Linked DNA regions of Homo sapiens. The protein of the gene in region 1 binds, or shares a complex with, the protein of each later gene. Each region holds a gene or a part of one and is shown on either strand. Other genes may lie near its edges.

Region 1 (11,399 bases):
ATGAAACTGTGTTCCTGGCGTTCCCTTCATAAATCATGCATGTATAAGTAATTTTCAAAGATTTTGGGAAATGAGCTGTTGCACAAGGGATGATGGGATGTGTTATTTTGTTTCTGTATTTTTCTTTCTCTTTCCCTTTTTTACAGTTGCTGGTCATTTATTGGTCAAAAAATAAAGAGGGTGTCTCTGTCAGAAGCAGTCAAAAAATAATAGGTCTGATGAAATATGAATGCCTGAGCTATATTTATCATAAGTAAACTATGTTTAAGAAACATAGCCAAGGCTGGGCACGGTGGCTCACGCCTGTAATCCCAGCACTTTGGGAGGCCAAGATGGGCAGATCACGAGGTCAGGAGTTTGAGACCACCCTGGCCAAGATAGTGAAACCCTGTCTCTACTAAAAATACAAAAATTAGCAGGGCATGGTGGCGTGCGCCTGTAGTCCCAGCTACTCGGGGGGCTGAAGCAGGAGAATTGCTTGAACCCAGGAGGCGGAGGTTGTGGTGAGCCAAGATTGTGCCACTGCACCCCAGCCTGGGCAACAGAGCAAGACTCTGTCTCAAAAAAAAAAGCAAGTAGCCAAAATGATGGTAAACTGCAAGCTCTTTCCTTATAGATTCAGAGCCACATCAATTTCTCCACATTTTTTAAAGAAATAAATCACTTTGGAAAATTACAGATATATTTCTATAATCAATAAATTTGAGGTATTTATATGGATTCATCATAATTAAAAATATTAGTTGTTATCCTATAAAACAATATACATATACAAATCAGTTGGGTCCCCTGGGAAGCAGATGCTGAGCTGGAGTTAAGAATGCAAAAGGTGGCCGGGCGCCGTGGCTCACGTCTGTAATCCCAACACTTTGGGATGCCGAGGTGGGCGGATCACGAGGTCAGGAGATGGAGACCATCCTGGCTAACACGGTGAAACCTCGTCTCTACTAAAAATACAAAAAATTAGCTGGGTGTGGTGGCGGGCGCCTGTAGTCCCAGCTACTCGGGAGGCTGAGGCAGGAGAATCGCTTGAACCTGGGACGCGGAGGTTGCAGTGAGCTGAGATCAGGCCACTGCACTCCAGCCTGGGCGACAGAGCCAGACTCCATCTCAACAACAACAACAACAACAACAACAACAACAACAACAACAACAAAAGATATTCCTTATTTTCTTCTCAGATTTTTTTTTTTTTTTGAGACGGAGTCTTGCTCTGTCATCCAGGCTGGACTGCAGTGGGGCGATCTCGACTCATTGCAAACTCCGCCTCCCGGGTTCAAGCAACTCTCCTGCCTCAGCCTGCCGAGTAGCTGAGATTACAGGCGCATGCGCCACCACGCCCGGCTAATTTTTTTGTATTTTTGGTAGAGACGGGGTTTCACCATGTGGGCCAGGATGGTCTCGATCTCTTGCCCTCATGCCTCGGCCTCCCAAAGTGCTGGGATTACAGGCCTCGGCCTCCCAAAGTGCTGGGATTACAGGCGTGAGCCACTGGCGCCCAGCCTTCTCAGAGTTTTATAATTTTGCTTTTTGCACTTTCTTCAATCCAATGGGATTGTTTTGCGTAGGGTGGGAGTTACAAGTATATTTTTTCTATGTGCATTTATCTATTGCACATTATTTCATTTATTGAACAGTATAGCCTTTACCTATTTATCTGCAATGCTTACGGTATCAGGTTTCTATATATTTGGCTGTCTACTGATCAATTGGTTTGTAGGTTCTTGTGCTAATATCCATTGTTTTAATTACTTTAGCTACGTAATCAGTTTTCACATCTGGTAAATCAAGTTCCCCTACCTTCTTCTTTTACAGGAGAATTAGCCTTTTGCTCTTTCATATACCTTTAAGAATGAGTTTGTCAAATTCCATGACAATCCCTGTTGGGAATTTCGTTAAAGTCACATTGCATTTGGATGTGATCAATTTGAGGAGCTATTACAACTTGAATCAACTGGAAAGAGACTTTTGCAAAAAGTCTTCTCTTCTCTCTTAGAAGATAAACTTGGGCATATCCTATAAGCTCCCTGCAGAAATCCCGAGAAAGAAGTGCGAGGAATAGTCCCATATGTCTTGGAGAACCTCTGATAATCTCTTCTAACTGTACCATCTTTGCAAAGGCAGGGATGGAAACAGAGAGGGAGGAAGAGGGCGGGGGACTCAAAGTATTAGCTAAAGGTGAGTAAAGAGTGGGCATCTAGTGTTCTTCTCAGTCACTATTTTCTCTGGTGTGTTTCCTGGAGATACATTTTTTGGAGGAGAGGAATTGAAAGGAGGCATTGGAAAGACAGAGGGTGAGGGAAAGACAGAGGGTGAATATGTTCTGGAGGAGAGAGTACCTTAACTGCTGATGGCTGAAACTGCTGTTCCTTCTACCTGTTCGGCTCTGAAGGAATCAGAGCCGAAAACAAAAAAAAAACTTTAGAGAGAAGGTAGCATTTGAGCTGAGGGCGCGCAGGGTGGATAAGAGTTCCAGCGCGAGCGTGTATCTGGGAGCTGGGGTGGGGCTGTGGTGGGCGGCATTAGAGAAAAAAGGCGACAGGCATTCTGAATAGCAGGAGACAGAGACAGAAGTGATGTGTTTGTAGGAGGCAAGAGCAGTTCATTTTGAGTGAGAGATACAGCTAGAAAGATAAGTAGCGGTCCGATTGTGCAAGGCCATGGATACCAGGTTAAGGACTTTGGAATTTATCCTGGGACGCCAGTGTGAGTTCTTGAACAGAAAAGTAAGTAGCTGGGTCCGAAGTTCGCGTCAGAAGGATCACTGTGGCTGCAGCAAGGCAGAGAACCAGGTGGCCGCGTCCTGGCCAGCAGGGCAGGCAAAGGCGCGGAGCGTTGCACTTGCACCTGCAGGGGGCACACTGAAGGGCCAAACGCCCACCCCCGCCCCCGTCCTCGCCGCCCTACTCCGATGCGCCGCGCTCGGAACTCGGCTAGCCCGCCTGGACGCGCCCCTCTCGGTCTTCGCCTATTCCGCCCGGACGCGCCTCGTGCGTCACGTCCGCCGTGGCGTGAGGCTCCTTAGAGCTGAGGAGGGAAGCGAAAAGAAGCCTCTGCGCCTGCGCCAGGGCGCACCCGTCGGCGGTAAAAGCTGAGGGGCTGGCGCGGGGGATTGGTGGGCGACACTTTTACGTCTACACGTGCCTACCCGTCTGCACGTTTCTGAGTCCGCACGGTTGTCTTCTCTTGCTGAATGGACATAGGTGTTTTGTTTTGTCCCAAGAGATACAGGCAAGCAGTACAGGGGTGATGGAGTGCTCCTTGACCTTAGCGGGGCTGACCCTGGCACTCCCTGTAGGTCTCCCCGCTGCGAAGCACTGAGTCTCTTCACTGCAGTTTCTCTCCAGTTACCCGCCCTGTCTACGGCCCAAACGGCCATGCTAGTGAAAACCTGCCCTGGCCGCTAAGCAAGCCTAGCCCAGGCTGTAACCCATGTTTCTAGGGCTTGTTTTCCTCTGCAGTCAAATCAGAGATTCGGAGTTGAAGGGGATCTTAGAGGTCAACATGCCCAACCTCTTAGCCCGAGTGAGTGAATGTACGCTTTTTACCTGCACACCCCGAAAATCGCCCGTTTTCTGGAAACAACGTTGATTATGTAGTCCTGGAACTTTCCTGCATGCACATTTTATTCCTTCGACAATATTTATTGCTACCTACTGTGTGCAGGCATTGTAGGCCCCGGGGATACGATTAAAACCAATGAAGAACGAAACGCACAAGATTGTTGATCTCGGCCGGGCGCGGTGGCTCACGCCTGTAGTCCCAGCACTTTGGGAGGCGGAGGTGGGTGGATTGCTTGAGGTCAGGAGTTCGAGACCAGCCTGGCCAACCTAGCGAAACCCCACCTCTACTAAAAATACAAAAATTGGCCGGGCTTGGTGGCGTGCGCCTGTAGTCCCAGCTACTCGGGAAGCTGAGGCAGGAAAATCACTTGAACCTGGGAAGTGGAGGTTGTAGTGAGCCAAGATTCCGCCTGCATTCTAGCCTGGGCAACAAAATGAGACTCTGTCTCAGAAAAAGAAAAAAAAAAAAAAAAGATTGTTTCTCTCTCTCTAGGAGTTTACATTTTATTTGGGGGCAGGAGGGAAACCAACAACCAAAAATAGAGGACTGATTTGATTTAGTGCTAGCAGGAAATAAAAAGAACATAAGGTAGAAATACACAGGTGAGAATTACTTGGAGTGATCGGAGAAGGCCTCTTGGAGGTGGTGATGTTTATAACCAGCCAAGGGAACAGTTAGGGGTTCTAGGCTGAGAGAAGAACAATGTTCTTTAGGCAGGTTGTTGTTTTCTAGGAATAGACAGAAGGCTACTGTGACTGGAGTGTGGTGAGGCGAGGTTGTGAATGGTGAGAAAACATTGAGAATGTGAGCAGGAGCCAGATGCACGCCTTTGTGGGGTACGGTAAGAAGTTTGAAATGTATTCTAAGAGCAATGGGAAGCCAAGCAATAGTTTGGGGTACAGGCTTGATGTTGGTTCATTTGGAACCATACAAACCAATCTCTTCCCCCATATCACAACCCTTTAAATATTTGAAGAGGGCTGACCGGGCGCGGTGGCTCAGGCTTGTAATCACAGCATTTTGGGAGGCCGAGGCGGGTGGATGACGAGGTCAGGAGTTCGAGACCAGCCTGGCCAATACAGTGAAACCCCATCTCTAATAAAAATACAAAAATTACCTGGGTGTGGTGGCAGGCGCCTATAATTCCAGCTTTCATTCCACACACTTTGAAAGTGGGGAGTTTTTCAAATGTAAACCAAGTATGTATATTTTTATTTTTTCAATAAAACAATAAAGATGGGTCTCGCCAGCCTGGTCTCAAACTCCTGAACTCAAATGGTCCGCCCACCTCGGCCTCCCAAAGTGCTGGGATTACAGGCGTGAGCCACTGCGCCCGGCCGGTCTGTGTGTATGTGTGTGTGTGTGTGTGTGTGTGTGTATATTTTTTTTTGAATTGAAACGGAGTTTTGGTTTTGTTGCCCAGGCTGGAGTGCAGTGGCATGATCCCGGCTCACTGCAACCTCTGCCTCCTGGGTTCAAGCGATTCTCCTGCCTCAGCCTCCCAAGTAGCTGGGATTACAGGCGCCCACCACCATGCTCGGCTAATTTTTGTATTTCTTATGGAGACAGGTTTTCACAGTGTTGGCCAGGCTAGTCTGGAACTCCTGACCTCAGGTGATCCATCCGCCTCGGCCTCCTAAAGTGCTGGGATTACAGGCATGAGCCACCTCGCCTGGCCGGCCTGTGTATTTTTAAAGGAAATAACCTAAGAGTTGTTTTTCCAGATTTTCAAAGAGGTCCTGTAAAGATTAAGAACCACTGAACCTTTCTCGTTTATGTGATCCTGGTTACTGTTCTCAGGAATAGCAGGACACAATGTCAGCTTTAACCCAGGCTAGTTCCTCTAAACTGCCTTCTTATCGGTGAAATGAAAATAATAGGGTTGCTATGGGGATTAAATGAGATGATACTCAAAAAAATGATAATTAATGATAAATCATAAGGTGTCTGCCACAAAGTGCCCCTATTATAAACAAACAGTGGCCTGGAGGGACAGTTTATAAATACTGCTCCTTTAGCATTCCACTAACATTGACTGAGTGCCTGTTCTACACTGTGTAGAGGCCCTGGTGAAAAAGATCTGCCTTCCAGTTTATTATCTAGTCGAAAGAACCGCAAAAGATAACAAAACACAATAGACTGAACGCCCTGAGAGGGGCATAAGTGCAGTGCTCTAGGAGCTGTAAAAGAGGTCTCGATATCCACTGGAGGAAAGTGCTTACTGGAGTTCATTTCTGGAGTGGGTTTAAAAGATGAACAGAGGGAATCTAAAACATTCACACAAAATCAATACTACACGTACACATTTTATTATTTTGTGGAAAGACCACTTAGAAACACCGCAATCACTTCTACTACTCAGCAGATACTGAGCAGTAGGTTTCGTGACAGAGCACCTGTCTTTTGTCCAGTCTGTTTACTATACATTGCGTGCTCTGGGCAGTCCTTATCTTCGTGTTCAGGAACAAAGTACACACACCCCTTTCCGAAACGAAGGGCCCAGGGACTCCGAGAAGGGTGGGAGCCCTCACGGCCAGGCCACACAATGGGGAGCCTCTTTACCCTAGTCATCACCCACCCTTGCAGGCCCCACTTTGCCAGGGTGCGACTTCTCGGGCCCCTTCGCCCCTCCCCTGCAGCCCCCAGGAGCGCAGCCACAGCCCGGCCGGGCGCCCTCCCTGTCTCTCTCTCTCTTTCTCTCTCGAGCTTTCCTCCTCCTTCACCGGGAGCCGGAAAACCCGGAGCGAACCAGCCCAGCACGGCAGCGCATGCTCAGTAGCGAGCAGGTTCAGTTCGCTAGTAGGAAGCTCCAGCGCTACACCGGCGGCGGCGGTGGCGGCGGCGGCCGCGGCGGCACCTCAGGGCAGCCAGATTCCCCAACAACGACCTCCGGTCCTTCCCCTTCCCCGCGAGACCTCCGCCCCAGCTCCGCCCCGCCCGGGGCTCTTGCGTTTCGGAGTCCCAACTACGCGGAGCGGGCGCCGCGGCCGGAGCGTCCCTCCACACGTCCTCCCCCAGCCGCCAGCTCCGCCGCGGGGCCAGACCGGGCCCGGGAGTGCAGCCCCGGCGGGCGGGCGGCGGCCGCGGCAGAGGGCAGCCCGGGGCGGCGCCGGCGGGCCGGGGAGGGGCGGGGGGCCTGGCCCCGGGGCGGTGGTGCGGGATGCCGCCGCCTCCGGGCCGCGTCCGTTCTCCACGGCTGGTACCTGTGTCGGGTGGGTGGCCAGGCGCGGGCCTCGCCCCCCAGCCCCCTCGCCAGGGCTAGCCCGGCTGCGCGGCGCCCGGAGGGGGCCGGGCCGTCCGGTGGGGCCGCGGCCCTGTTCCGCGCTGCGAGCTCGCCCTCTCGCGGCTCCCTGGCCCGGCCGCCGCCGCCCCTCTCCCCGCCCAGAGGCGCCCCGGGGGCACCATGCAGGCGCAGCAGCTGCCCTACGAGTTTTTCAGCGAAGAGAACGCGCCCAAGTGGCGGGGACTACTGGTGCCTGCGCTGAAAAAGGTGAGGAGCACGCGGGACCCCGCTTCCCGGCCGCAGCCCCCCAGCGCGGGCGCTGGGGAAGGGCTGGGGAGGCGGGGCGCGCGCAGGGCCGTCTTTCTTCCCGGTCTCGCCGCGTCTCCAAAAGGACGGCGCACACGGAGAGGCCCCCCTCATACGGCTGGCTCTCGGTGTTGACATCCACCGGGTGTGTGGGAATGCCGCAGGGAGCCGGGGGGAGTTTATCCGGATAATCCAACCCCTGAGAGGTGAATGCTTTGCCCTTTGATTCCAGGACAACAACAGTTGGAGGAGCCTCAGTTTTCAGCGGAGGTCAAAGCAGGCCACTTTTCCGTCTTCTTGGTCTTAGCCCGGAGCTGCTGTCAGCCTACCGTTTTAGGTGTCCAGTACGCTGGTTTTAGTGGCTTGAGAATGCCCTGGCCGTAAGGCTTGCTCAAAGGAATTGCGAGCTCGCCTGCCAGTAGGAACGTGGCCTGCTCTGCTCGCCGTCAGTATTCACTCCTCATTCTCCTGGTTTCCCCCGCTCCTCCGATTAACAGGGGCTGGTGCACATGCTACCAATTTCAGGGGGGTTTTGTTTTGTTTTTGCAGCGTTCGAGATTCTTGGTGCTGTCATTTGGCTTGTTAAGAATTTTTAGCCTTTGTATGTTTAAGTTTGCTACATTGTTACCTGAAGTTACATACCCCCGATCTGTGCTTTTAAATGTTTTAGTATAATTAGGAAGTGTTCTTACGTTTTTAAAGCTTCTAAAGCAGCAGTGTGACAACCAGACTATTTTTGTTTTCTTTTCTTCATTTACCTTTTCTGTAAAGATTGCTTTACTCTTCTAATAGTGTTTCTAAATCCCAGTTTCTTGCTGCTCAAAGAATGTTTCATGCTAACTGCTTCTACTAAGAATGGAGATTATGTTTTACCTTTTATGCTAAACATTAAAAGGTGTCTGATATTTCTCAAAGGCCAGTAACTTTTACTTTCCCTTTTGCCCTGTTCTCCTCCGGTCCCTCTTGCTGTCTTACAGTGGAAACTATTTGGTTTTTCAGGAGAATTTGCTCATATATTTCTGGCTTAAATTACGGACATTTTCCCCTTCAAGTGTCTGACTAGTCACAAACATCTATGTAATTTTTTTTAAAAAACAGAAGAAAAGATGCCATATATCTTACATACTTTACTCCTTAGAAATCCCTTCAGGCTCTCACTCCTTACTTTTGCTTTACTTGCAAGTTTGACTTCTTAGCTTGTAATGGAAGGGGTGTAGGAGGTCTCTGTGATGCTAGAAGCTGGTGTCCGGATAGAGTAAGGGGAGACACGGAAATTGTTTAAAAACGTGTAAAGGAACTCATAAAGCATTGCCAAATAGGGGCCATTTTGCTTAGAGGCAAAAGCAGCTCCTTTCCCAGGGGAATCACCAAGGTATCAGCTGAGGATCCTTTGAAGCAGTGGAAAGAATATTGTAGGAGTTGACAGACGTTGTTTAATTCTGCCACACTGGTGGCCCTTGCTGAAATCTGTCCACAAAAGCATTTTGTTTGGCTGGCATAGTGTTGTTTTATTTTTAAATGTAATTAGTTGCTAATATTTGAAAATGGGAGATATTACATAAAACCTGAATTTTCGGCTTTTCTTGAAGAATAGGAAGGTCTTGTCATTTAGGGCCTGTATTCAAGCGAGGCACTAAACTGCTGGAGTTGAGTAAATGGCTCCCTTCTTTAGACAGGTCATGTATCTCCACCTTACCACAGCCCCCACTTGTCCTTTTTGCATATTTACATAAAACAGCTTTTGACTTTAAGTTAGAGATACTTTTGCAGTAGAAGTGATAGGAGGAGGTGGAAGTGTACATAATCTAGCTGATATGTAAGGTTCTTCCAATTCTTATTTAAATAGCCACTAACAATGATTCTAAACAAGATTGAAAATACAGTATGTTTCATATCTGGATATGCTGTTGGTAGCTCAAAACCTACGTTTTTACTTGCCTGCTGGACATTTCATGTGGATATCTCCATATCTTGATTTCTTCCTTTGATTTGTTATTGAATTATTCGTAGATACATCCGACTTGTGTTCTCTTACTCTTACCTGAGGCTCTTTGGATATGCTAGTCCCTTCATCCTTCTTTGCCTGGTCCAACACTACTCATCCTTCTAGACTCACTCAACCTGAACTGTCAAATCATCAGGGCTGAGTTGGATATTACTCCTTTGTTTTCTTTTTGCACCCTGTCCTAGCTCTGTGAATTTTAAGTTCCTATTTACTTGCCTATAACTAGATTGGATGCTCCTTGAGAACAGGGATGATATCTTACCCACATTTTATTCCCCATACTTATAGTGCTTGACATCTGGTAGGCACTCAATTTGAATAAATAGGTGAGGGGATATACAAACTAAAACTATCACTTCTCTCCTCCACCTGTCATTTCAGTTTTTCTTCTCGATTAATGGCTTTATTGTTACATTTGACTGGTTTAAAATGTTGGGGTCATCTCTGGCTTCTTTGTATTACTGTGCACACTCAGGTAGAGCCTGTATGTTCATTTCCCTTTGACATGTTCTTCTAGTCTATTCCTCCTCCGACTTCTCTAATTGAGTCTCCTTTGTCAGACTACTGTGATAACTTCTTAATGGGGTTCACTGGCCCCCACCTCACCTTCTGTTTTTCAAATCTCACCAGTTATAGGACACTTCTGAACATGTCACACTCAGAATTGTTGATGTCTTTTGAGTTCAACCTATGCTAAAGTGCACTTTTTAGCATAGAATTAACAGCAATTGATATTTGGCTTCATCCTGCTTTTCTGACTGGATTGTCTACCATAACCTTTTATCTCCTTTTTGCTTTAGCCAGTCCGGACTGCTACTTTTCCTGAATATGGCTGGAATGTCCCACTGTATCTGTTTCACCGCATCTATGAGTCTAAGTCCTATCTTATCTATTGCACAAATATATCATGCCTACTATAGACCAGGTATTGCCCTTGACACTCAGGCTAAAAAGGTAAATGACAGGGCCGGGCGCAGTGGCTCACGCCTGTAATCCAGCACTTTGGGAGAGCAAGGTGGGCGGATCACGAGGTCAGGAATTCAAGACCAGCCTGGCCAACGTGGTGAAACCCCATCTCTACTAAAAAATACAAAAATTAGCCTGGCGTGGTGGTGGGCACCTGTAATCCCAGCTACTCGGGAGGCTGAGGCAGGAGAATAGCTTGAAACCGGAAGACGGAGGTTGCAGTGGGGCGAGATTGCACCACTGCACTCCAACCTGGGCAACAAGAGCAAAACTCTGTCTCAAAAAAAAAAAAAAAAAGTAAATGACATAATCAGAAAAGACTAAATTAGAACATGATGGGAAGTGGCAGGGCATGTCTGGAGAGACAACTGGTTTATGAACAGTTTTTATATATGTTAAGCTAAGGAATTTAAATTTTTTCTTGGGTAATTAGAAGCCATTGATAAAGTTTCTTTTGTTTGTTTTTGTTTTGTTTGTTTGTTTTGAGACAGAGTCTTAACAGGCTGGAGTGCAGTGGTGCGATCTTGGCTCACTGCAGCCTCCACCTCCTGGGCTTAAGCTATCCTCCCACCTCAGCCTCCTGAGACTGTAGGCACACTGCCACATCCAGATAATTTTTGTATTTTTTGTAGAGATGGGGTTTCACCAGGCTGGTCTTGAACTCCTGGGCTCAAGCCATCTGCCTGCCTCAGCTTCCCAAAGTGCTAGGATTACAGGGTGAGCCACTGTGCCCAGCCAATAAGTTTTAAGTAGGGGAGTAACAGCACATTTTAATTTTAGAAAATTCACTTTGGCCATAGAATGGAAAATGGTTTGGAGAAGAATGAGACGTAAAGTGAGGAGAAAAGTTAGAAGCCTAGTTTAATAGTCCAGTCAAGAGATAATACACATTTGAACTAAGGGTGCATTTGAACAAGGATGGAAATATGGATGTGGATTTTATTTGAAAGAAGTTTACAAGGCAAAATTGACAGGATCTAGTAACTCACTGAGTGATTGGGGGAATGGTAATGGAACAGGAATAGTCTTGTTTCTGACTTGATTGTCTTTAGTCAGGATAGAGAATGTAGGAGAAGCTCTTAGGATGGAGAGAGGAGTGGCATAATAAGATGATTTTTGGAAATGTTGACTTAAAAGTTTGGGTTATTCAAGTGAACTTCTCCAACTGGCTATTGGTTGTTGGTATCTGATTAAGCAGATTTGGAACTTCTAGATGTGTAAGTAAAGCCATAAATATAGATGAAGCCTCTACAAAGACTTATACATGAATGTTCATGGCAGCTGTTTTCAGTCAAAAACTGGAAACAATCCAATGTTCGTCAGCAGGTGAATGAA
Region 2 (10,459 bases), on another chromosome or scaffold:
GGCATGTTGAATTCCCTGTACTCATGGGTTGTCCTGGTGGATATGACCTGCAGGCATCTTGATATACATACATGTCTGGTGCTCAGGACAGAAGTCCAGGCTAGAGATAGACTTGGGAGTCTTCGATCCATGGACAGCCGAAGAACTTCACTTATTTGTGCTATGGGCTTGGGCAAACTACTTTATCTCACATCTTCTCTAAGCTATTGTTCCTTCAGCTGTGAAAGTAGGTAAAACTGCATACAGGACTTTATACATAGATTAATATTAAAGACCATGAAAATCTCTTTATAAAATGAAAAGTGCTATAAAAAGTTAACTGCATTATTTTATATACTACACGCAGGCCAAAAAGTAGGGGCAGGCCACTGGCTACTGAGAACTGTTCAGAAACAGTATCTTCTCCTTACAAAATCACTGGGCACCTACAGTTGAAATAATTTTGCAAAACTGGTCACCATATTTCAAAATAAATATAATGGAGCTGGACAAATCACAGGGAAGGATAGCTACAACTGAAGGCTATGAAGGATTTCTGTTTTGATTAGGGAGTGAAGATGTTAAAGAGCTTATTTTCATGGCAGAATTTTCAATTAAAAACTAAGACATTCACTAAAAGTAAGGATAAAGAAAACAAAGACTTCTTTACTAAATGCTGGATACTTAAAATTATAAGAATGGTGAACATTAGCTTAGTACTAGAGAGAATTAAGTGTGTACTACTCCCAAGAGAAAAAACTAGTTCAAAAATCTGAATGAACTCAAGGAAAATTTATATGACAAATTTTGAAAATAACGATATAATGAGCATACATGTGTAACCTGTTCAAGTCAGATGGCATTTGCCCACAAGTGATCACTTGAAGTCCAGGTAAGAATGAGAGGCTGGAATGACCGTGGATCCAATCTTAATGCCAATATAATGTTCATATTTTATATTATATACCTCTCATATTATTTATTTAGCCTTAATAGCAATTTCCTTAATCCAAGACTACATGTGAATTATGTAATTTATTGAGGCTTGAAAAATAAGCATGAAATAATCTAACGGTATCTGAAACTTTAGTGCCCTTTTCTCTCTCCAAAACGAGTATTTACTTTTCCCCCAGCCCAATGGTATAAGCTTATTTTAAAAAACTAAAACACAACAAAGGATGAGGGAGTAATTTTGTTTCTAGATGAAATCATACTCAACACAAGGTGCTGTGACCCAGCTTCACTTACATAATGGACATTTTTGAACATCAGTATATCTAAATCTACCTAATATTTCCAACAACTATGTAATTTGTATATATGGACATACCATAATTTATTCACCCATTCTCTATTGGTAGACATGAAGATGATTTCCATTTTTTTAAAATCATAAACAACACTGCAGTAAACATTCTTATATATACATCTTAAACATTTATCCAATTAAATCCTTGGATAAATTTCAAGAAGTTGAATTACCTGGTCAAAGGACATGTAGTTTACATTTTGAAACATATTTCCAGACTGACCTCCATAAAGTCTGAGGGTCTATACTCCCACTACAGTGCAAGGCGCACACTTCTCCATACCCTTCCTAGCAGTTATCATTTTAACCTTAGCCAATATGAAAGTACAGAAATGTTATTTATTGTTTGAACTTGCATCACATTCATGAAGTAAGTGTCTTTTTATATGTTCATGTTATTTATTTTATTTCTTTTTTGGTAGACAAGCTATTTATATCTTTAGTACCCCCCATCCCTTTTTTTCTATTTGTGTGTTTGCTTTTCTCTAATTCATATATAAGATAGCTTCCTGTTACTTGAACCAAATGGTTTTTCTAGGTTTTCATTTGTCTTCTATCTTTGTTAAAGAAAACTTAATTTTTATGCAGCCAGATAGCTCAGTTTTTTCCCAAATGTTTGCCTTAATGGTTTAAGGATACTCTGATGATGAGAAAGGAGTCTCACTTTTCTCAAGGGTGAAAAATATTTATCCAAATTCCACAAATAAGGAAACCTAAAGTTAAATCACTCAATCTATGTTACTTAGATAACACTGCAAGATCCATAATTTAAGAATGACATTATCATTTTTATTTCACAAGTGTATAGTTTAGCATTAAAATTTACACAAGGAGAAACAGGGTAGAACCAGGGTTCTCACTGCGGGAGAAAGAAGGTGAAAAATAGTTAACTCTTGATTTCTTAGTAACATGCATTTCTAAGCTCTGTGCCTTGAAAACGGTCTAGAAGCAGTGACACTGCTGAGGCGGGCAGATCACGAGGTCAGGAGTTCGAGACTAGCCTGGCCAACATGGTGAAACCCCGTCTCTACTAAAAATACAAAAAGTAATTGGGTGTGGTGGTGCATGCCTGTAATACCAGCTACCCAGGAGGCTGAGGCAGGAGAATGGCTGGAACCCAGGAGGTGGAGGCTGCAGTGAGCCAAGATCGCGCCACTGCACTCCAGCCTGGGCAACAGAGCGAGACTCCATCTCAAAAACAAAAAAAAAAATTAATAGAAATAGTGAAAATAAAATATTTGAAAGGATTAAGGAGGGACACACTACCTACCTTACTTTTTTCAATGTTTTATTTTGAAAAAATTTCAAACCTATAGAAAAGTAGTAAAAAATAGTACAGCGAATAGCCTCAGCCTCCCAAAGTGCTAAGATTACAGGCATGAGCCACCATATCTGGCTTATTTCTACTAATTTCTATATTAAGATCCCAATAATTTAACTGTTCCATAACCTACACATTATGAAATAATAATGGTTAAGAGACGCCAGAAATGTAATGCTCTTAAGTATAAAGCCTCTAAATTAAGTCATATATAATTAGCATGATTGCCTAGAAACACTGCTCTTCAAAATAAAGTGGGCCATCCATATCCATGGGTACTGCATCTACAGATTCAACCAATTATGGATAAAAGATATTCTGAGGAAAAAAATCCATGAAGTTCCGAAAAGTAAAACTTGAATTTGCCATGTACTGAGTACTACGTTGAACCCACATGAATGAACTGATGTGCAGGCATTGTAATAGGTATTACAAGAAATCTAGAGATACCTAAAACTAATAAGCTCCATGAAGGCAGGAATCTGGTCTGTTTTGCGCCTCAGTGTATCTCTAGCCCACAGGAAGACTGCATGGTACAAAGTGGGCAGTGAAGAACATTTCTAGGATTAAGGAATTAGTTGTATTGTTAAAACCAGAATCTTAGGAGATTCCAAACCATAAAATCATTTTTTCCTTTCACTTAATTCCATTACCAACTTCCATTTGTATGTTTTTAAATCTTTGGATTTATAAAAACCCAAGGTAGAAAAAAACCATGACCAGTAAAGTTTTATATTCAGGTCTTAATAAATACTTATTCTTAATTTGACCTAAATACAGTACCTGAGTTTTCTGTTTATTCTAAAAATCAGGTGCTCACAACTATTCTACAGTCCTATAAAACTCTACAAAATGTGCACTTTCACAATTTGCCACTTCTGAATAGGACCCTCCTATCATCCCCTGTAACACACCACCAAGCCTTGGACTCCATTAAGCAGCTCCTGAGTGCATGCAAAGAAGCTCAGAGAGCCACACTGCTGCCTTTTAGTCCCTTCAACAAAGTAAGCTCAGTAAGTGTTAACAACTGAACCACCCTATTTTCTTATATACTGCCTCGTTTCCTTTCTTAGTTCACTATACTCACCTACTTAGTTAGGCCTAACTAATACAGACAGTAATCTTTATATTAATATTAGCAGAGAGCAAAAATGATACGAAATCAATCATATAAGACTTTTAAATAAAACGAATATATTTATAAATTGATGCCACCCATAATTTAAACAGCGAAACTACACAAACTTAGGATTTCACTGTTACTTGTTATAAAGCAAATAATTTGACCAGTAGAGGGCACTCACAAAAGTGGGGAGAGCTTCACAGCCTTGAAGAGAAATGATTTATAAAATTGCTGTGTGTCTCTGATTTTAAAAACAGAATGTTTTAATAGAAGACTGGAGTAAGCTAACATATCATTAACGTACAAAAGTTAAAGTTTAAATCTTTGTTATACTTGAAAATCTAACATAAACCTTATGTCAGGGACATGAATTTGACAATTTAAAGGATGTTTAAAGCTACAGGTTAACATATCAAGGTTTGGATCTTAACACCATTGAGGTTTGGGGTCAGATAACCCTGTTGTGGGGGCTTTCCCGTGCACTGCAGGAAGTTTAATATTAGGTTGGTGCAAAGGTAACTGCAGCTTTGCCATTTAAAGTAATAGCATCTACTCAATAGATGCCAGTAGCAGTACTCTCTCCCCAAGTTGTGGCAACCAAAAACATCTCCAGATGTTGCCAAATGTCCCCTGGAGGGCAGTCACCCAACCATCCCTCATTGATTACTAAAGATATATGTATAAACTCAGAAGAATAGCAGCTTACAAATTACATAAGGCTTTTCTTATACCAGTCTTCAGTATCAGTTTAATTTTACAAATTTTCTCTCTATAATCTACATACTTCATTCGTAGGTAAAATGAATTCTACAATGAACATGGAAAAATAAAAATAAAATAAAAATTAAAATAAACCTTGGTAAATAAATACTCTACAGCTCAGAACACTAAAGATGAAACAAACCAATCCAATGATTAATCTGGTCTTCCTTACTGAATAGGAAACTGTTCCATCAAAGAGGGGCATAATACTTGAACTGAATTATAAGTGCCACAATAAAAGCATGCTGATGTCAAACAATTAGAGCCTGGGAAAAAATACTTCCTGCTATATTTATTCTTACTAGCATATTATATACAGTAGATACTTAATATATATTTGGTAAGTGATCAACTAATCATTCTGATCTCTGTAACTACCTACATTTTTTTAAAACGAGACTTTTCCTCTTCCACCAAATTTTACCTTAGAAAAAAAACTTCAGGGTTTTGATAATAAATGATCTCTGAACTATAAAGGTATATATTTCTAGCCAAGTATTGTGTTTGGGGGCTATTTTGAGTTTTCAATAATCTTGCCCTAATAACGAGGTATTTCATTATCTCTTTAGTGGGCTTCATAAAAGATAACAATATATACTTCACAATACAAGTAAAGGTGATTATGTGCACAGCCTCGAATACAAACATACTCCATCTATGTGTCATACCTGAATGATTTTACATCATACCTCTGCCACTAAGTTGCCATTAGATAGCAGGCTAAGTTCAAATTTTGGTATACTTACAAATCTGAATTAGTCTCCATTAGTAAATATTTTCTTAATTTGAAAGATAGCTAATTTTCAGTTTTAAAAAGTTATACAAGAGTACAGTGCAAATTCTACTTAACTTGGTCTCAGAGAATTTAAATTGAAATCCTACCACTTATTAGCTACGTATCCTTAGATGAGTTACAACCTCTCAGAGACATTATTGAAAGAAACAATAGCCACCCTCCTTACTATCTCTTAGTGTAAATTTTGAAAAATCTAAATCACCAAAAAATACAGTATTACTTGATTTAAATTTTTAAAAAATTTATTTCCATTTTAAATGTAGAAAAACTGCTAATAATTCCAAAATGTGCAGTCATATCCTTTCTAATTTTCTCTCTGACCCACACGGATTGGTAAATACCAATCAAAACCTGCAATGGCAGTGAAATCCCCATATCCTCCTAAATTTTTAACTTTTTACAATAACATGGAGTCAGCATTTCCATTTAACCAACTATTTAACTACTAAGTTCTCCTGCCTTTCTTACAGTTTAACTACACCAAGAACTTAATGTAATGTGTCAGTTCCCTCAGAGACTCACTGTAACTTGGGAGATAAGAGATAATCTCAGATACCTTTTCCCAGGTGACTAAACTACGTCAGGGACCGTCAGTTTCAAAGTTCACAGGTAACCAATGCTTCCCAGAGTCAAGTCTTCTGGTTTGGCAGAAATCATAAGCAGAGTTATAGGTTTAAGTTTATAAACTTTTTCAGCCTTCCGCCCAAATAAAGGCTTAACTGTTAGCTTTATTTCTTCAACATTTATATTGCATTTTAACAATCATTAGCAAAAGGTTTCCTAACCCACTTTATCACATTCATGACGTCATGCTGTATATACTCATATAGCACTCATGACCTCTGATTGGAAACAAAGTGTAATGGAATTTCTCAGATTTTCAGGGAAGACAGACAGCATTTCCAGTAAAATCACCTTCCAAAATCCCAGGAAAACTTTCAGGCATAAAGTGAATTATATTAAAACTTCCTTTTACATCTGATTTAAATAGTAGAGTCTGCCAAGTAACCCTGAATTTGCAATACAGATTAAAATGGGTGCACTATTCAAACCTCTTCAAAGAAACAAAACTATAGTACACATTGAATTAACTTGTCAAAAGTAAATATACAGAGACTATTGCATAGGCAGTCTACTTCAATTAGACTGTTCCCCTTTACTGCTGTAAATTCTTAAAATTGGAAGCCAAATAAAGTTGTTTCTATGTTTAAATCAAATCTTTGCAAATAGGCATTATTTCTCCACTTTTTTATAGTACCAAAAATATGTGACGTTTCCTTATGATTAGTTATCTAATCAATTCTCCAGGTTCTAAACTGCATAAATATCTTCCCAAGGCCACCCAATGCCCTCAGAACTTGCCTCAGCGCAAAGTGTCTCTTCAAGACACTACACAGTACAGTACGTTAATAAGGCACTTTGACCTGTTCTAGATTTCACAGCTTGGAACTTGAAGAAAGTTCTTAGAAATTTTTCAGAACTGATTTTTTTAAATTAGTACACTAGATGTAGAATAAATGCTAAAGTATTAGGACTGCTTAACCCAGGGTAAAGAAGCCTAAGAAACAATCTAACAATATAGGGCTATTTCAAAGACAAGGCGATATGCTTATTTTCCATCTCCACTGATGTTAAATTTAACATGAAGATCCAAATTACATGTAAAATATGCTAATAAATATGTTCTGAAAATGAGTTAACAAGGACAGTTGGGGAATGTCCCCTCCTGGAGGTCTTTGAGATTAAATAAATCCTCATCTGCTTGGGATGGAAGTTCTACTCCATGACCTTCAAGGTGTCTTACAGGTCTTTACTTATCATTCTGCTGCTGGTCTTTACTTTGGTAAATTTTCATTAAACTAAAAAAATCTGAAAATAATCCTCAAAAACATGATAACAATTTAAATTTACTCAAGGAATTTTTTTTTAAATCCTAGTATTTCCTTGAGTAAATTTAAAAATGACAACAAAGCAAAGGTAAAGTTGGTAATAGTACCTTTATATAAACCACACCTTAGGCAAATAATTCATTTTGTAAAATTTATCCGGTAGTTGTAGGTTCTCTAATGTTGAGAAGAAGATAGGAAAATACTGCTGATGAAGTTTAAAAAAATCAACCATCAAACAATTATATTTCACTAGTACAATTAAATCTAACCTTTACATATGATGTCACAATACCAAGAAACCCATAAAAATAAAAGTTACAATAAAAAGATTGTCTTTTAGGTCCAGATAGGATACAAATTTCTACCCTCTCACGAAACTCTGAAATACACTTCCAATCAAAATGCACAGAGAGTGAACATCATGGACCCTGACATACTCCCAAGGAAAGTAAAGTTCCCATATTAATGGTTACATATAACTTGAAACCCAAGGTACATTTCAGATAACTTAACTTTCAGCATAATTATCTTGTAATAAGTACTCATGAAAATGGTCAGAGAAACCTTTATCTGTATCAAAGAATGGTCCTGCACCAGTAATATGCATATTAAAACAAGATTTACCTCTATTGTTGGATCATATTCGTCCACAAAATGATTCTGAATTAGCTGTATCGTCAAGGCACTCTTGCCTACGCCACCAGCTCCAACTACCACAAGTTTATATTCAGTCATTTTCAGCAGGCCTTATAATAAAAATAATGAAAATGTGACTATATTAGAACATGTCACACATAAGGTTAATACACTATCAAATACTCCACCAGTACCTTTTAATACAAACTCACCTTTATATGAAAAATTATTTCAAAATACCTTACAAAATTCAATCATGAAAATTCCAGTTGACTGCAGACGTGTATCGTAATGAACTGTACTTCATTTACAAACTCCTCCATCGACGCTTAAGAAAAATGCATAAATGCTACATAGACAGTTCTTTTATCTTAAAATCAAGTTGTTCTATCTAAATAGCCAGACTGCTGTTCTGCGGCGGCTAAAGGCTCTCAAAGGATCATATCATGACTTCACTCATGTAGAGACTTCACAGTGCTCTACACCCTGTAGCACACCCTCACAAAAGTTGCTGACAGCTATCTCCACTCTTATTGTTACAGTTTTCCTAGTGGACCCCCACCTCTAAGTGTTAGAAGTCAATATGCAACAGCTACAGAAAAACTTTTAAAGCATCATGGCAGTAGTTCTCTTGGATAAATATTAACAGTAAGAATCAGATGAGAGTTGAGAGAATGAGTGTCAAATAAAGCTGGATTGTGTCATGGGGAAATAAAAATTTAAACACTGAGGCAAAGAAGAACAATATTTGACGACATTTTAATGTGTGAAATATCTCTGGGGAAAATAGGAGTCCGAGGTTGCAATGAGCCGAGATGGCGCCACTGCACTCCAGCCTGGCGATAGAGCAAGACTCCGTCTCAAAAAAAAAAAAAAAAAAAAAAATCTCTGGGGAAAATAAAGCTAAAAACCAAGAGAACTCCGAATTAACTGTTCAGTACAATACATAATCCTGTATCACCGCTGCACAAAAAAAGATAAAGATTAGAAAGCCGGGTGCGGCGGCTCATGCCTGTAATCCCAGCACTTTCAGAGGCCAAGGCGGGTGGATCACCTGAGGCCAGGAGTTCAAGACCAGCCTGGCCAATATGGTGAAACCCTCTCTCTACTAAAAATACAAAAATTAATCAGGCGTGGTGGCGCTCTCCTGTAGTCCTAGCTACTGGGGAGGCTGAGGAAGGAGAATCACTTGAACCCGGGAGGCAGAGGTTGCAGTGAGCCCAGATCACGCCACTGCACTCCAGATTGGGTGACGGAGTAAGACTCCATCTCAAAACAAACAAACAAACAAAAAGATTAGAGATAAACACTGTTTTTAGTAAGAAAACAGCTGTTAAGAGATGCAAGTGAGCCGGGCACGGTGGCTCACGCCTATAATCCTAGCACTTTGGGAGGCCGAGGAGGGTGGATCACGAGGTCAGGAGATCAAGACCATCCTGGCTAACCCGGTGAAACCCCGTCTCTACTAAAAATATAAAAAAATTAGCCGGGCGTGGTGGCGGGCGCCTGTAGTCCCAGCTACTTGGGAGGCTGAGGCAGAAGAATGGCGTGAACCCAGGAGGCGGAGCTTGCAGTGAGCCGAGATCACGCCACTGCACTCCAGCCTGGGCGACAGAGCCACTCCGTCTCAAAAAAAAAAAAAGATGCAAGTGAATATATCTCAGTAATCAGTAATCCATGTGACTGTTACTCTTTGCTTTTCATACACTGTCTCCCAAGAGGTGCATGAATATTGACAGATTGTATAACAAACACCATACAGAAAATAAAACATATTTTTTAGTTAGTTGTTTCAAATTTTTTGAAATAATATGAATGTTTAATTTCACCTCCTTTCCCTCATGTAACACATAATTATAAATAAGGAGAGAAATGCAGAAAAAAATGGGAGTAAATGCACAACTATTTATTATAGGATGAGTAGCTCCAAATTAATGAATGTGCATATATTGTAGATAAACACTAAATATACACAGCATCATAATTGACTGAAGACCCAAAATAATAATTTGGTTTCCCAAATGATAACATACTAACCTTACTCCTAAGCCCTGCCGCAAAAAGCACCACAGGCTAGAAAAATTGTATCACACACGGTCACGGCATAGTTCCCCGCCTTACTCTGCTCTACCTAGACTTATTGGCTGCTTGTCTAGGGTGAAGTTAACAACCACTACAAACATGTATCTTATCCCGTTTGCCTCCACGCTTTATTTCAAATGTAGGCCAAAGCAATTAGGAATAGATGAGGAGAATTACACTAAAATGTATCTTCTAGCTCTCTGCCTACCCCAACCTCCCCCCAACCAGTTTGCATAGCCTAAAACAGTTCTCAAAATGTGGTCTAGGAACCCCTCAGGTTACTAAGACTTTTCTGGTGTGCAAGAGGTCAAAACTGTTTTCATAATAACATTAAGATGTCCTTTACCCTTTTAACTCCCATTCTTTCACAAGTTTTCCAGATGTGTGATCATAATAGATTGAATGCAGATGCAGATATAAGAATCCATATCTTCTATTAAGCCACATCATTAAAGAGATTTACTGAAGTGTGAAACAATACCACTTTTCTAAGTTTTGGTTTTGTTTTGGAAAATAGTTATTTTTCATAAAATATTTTATTCATGTTACCAAGTAATGGGCT

What was found.
Region 2: the proteins of SOS1 (region 1) and KRAS are in contact, whole or in part, in a crystal structure (PDB 8BE4), measured with the Homo sapiens proteins. Residues at the interface, in NP_005624.2 of Homo sapiens: Lys602, Trp809, Thr810, Lys814, Leu822, Met824, Ile825, Arg826, Thr828, Thr829, Thr832, Leu833, Leu872, Val875, Ser876, Asn879, Ser880, Ser881, Pro882, Tyr884, Ser908, Asp910, His911, Tyr912, Lys913, Phe929, Phe930, Gly931, Ile932, Leu934; in NP_001356715.1 of Homo sapiens: Ser17, Ala18, Ile21, Gln25, Asp30, Glu31, Tyr32, Pro34, Thr35, Glu37, Tyr40, Asp54, Ile55, Leu56, Asp57, Thr58, Ala59, Gly60, Gln61, Glu63, Tyr64, Ser65, Ala66, Met67, Arg68, Asp69, Gln70, Tyr71, Arg73, His95.

What each region holds. Positions count from the first base shown.
Region 1 is NC_000002.12:39,115,991-39,127,389, reverse strand, and holds the start of SOS1 (son of sevenless homolog 1), read left to right. Parts: upstream 1-6,338; 5' UTR 6,339-6,967; coding exon 6,968-7,054; exon of another isoform or gene 7,055-7,299; intron 7,300-11,399.
Region 2 is NC_000012.12:25,237,471-25,247,929, forward strand, and holds part of KRAS (GTPase KRas), read right to left. Parts: intron 7,926-10,459; 5' UTR 7,915-7,925; coding exon 7,804-7,914; intron 1-7,803. UniProt on the Homo sapiens protein: Ras proteins bind GDP/GTP and possess intrinsic GTPase activity. Plays an important role in the regulation of cell proliferation.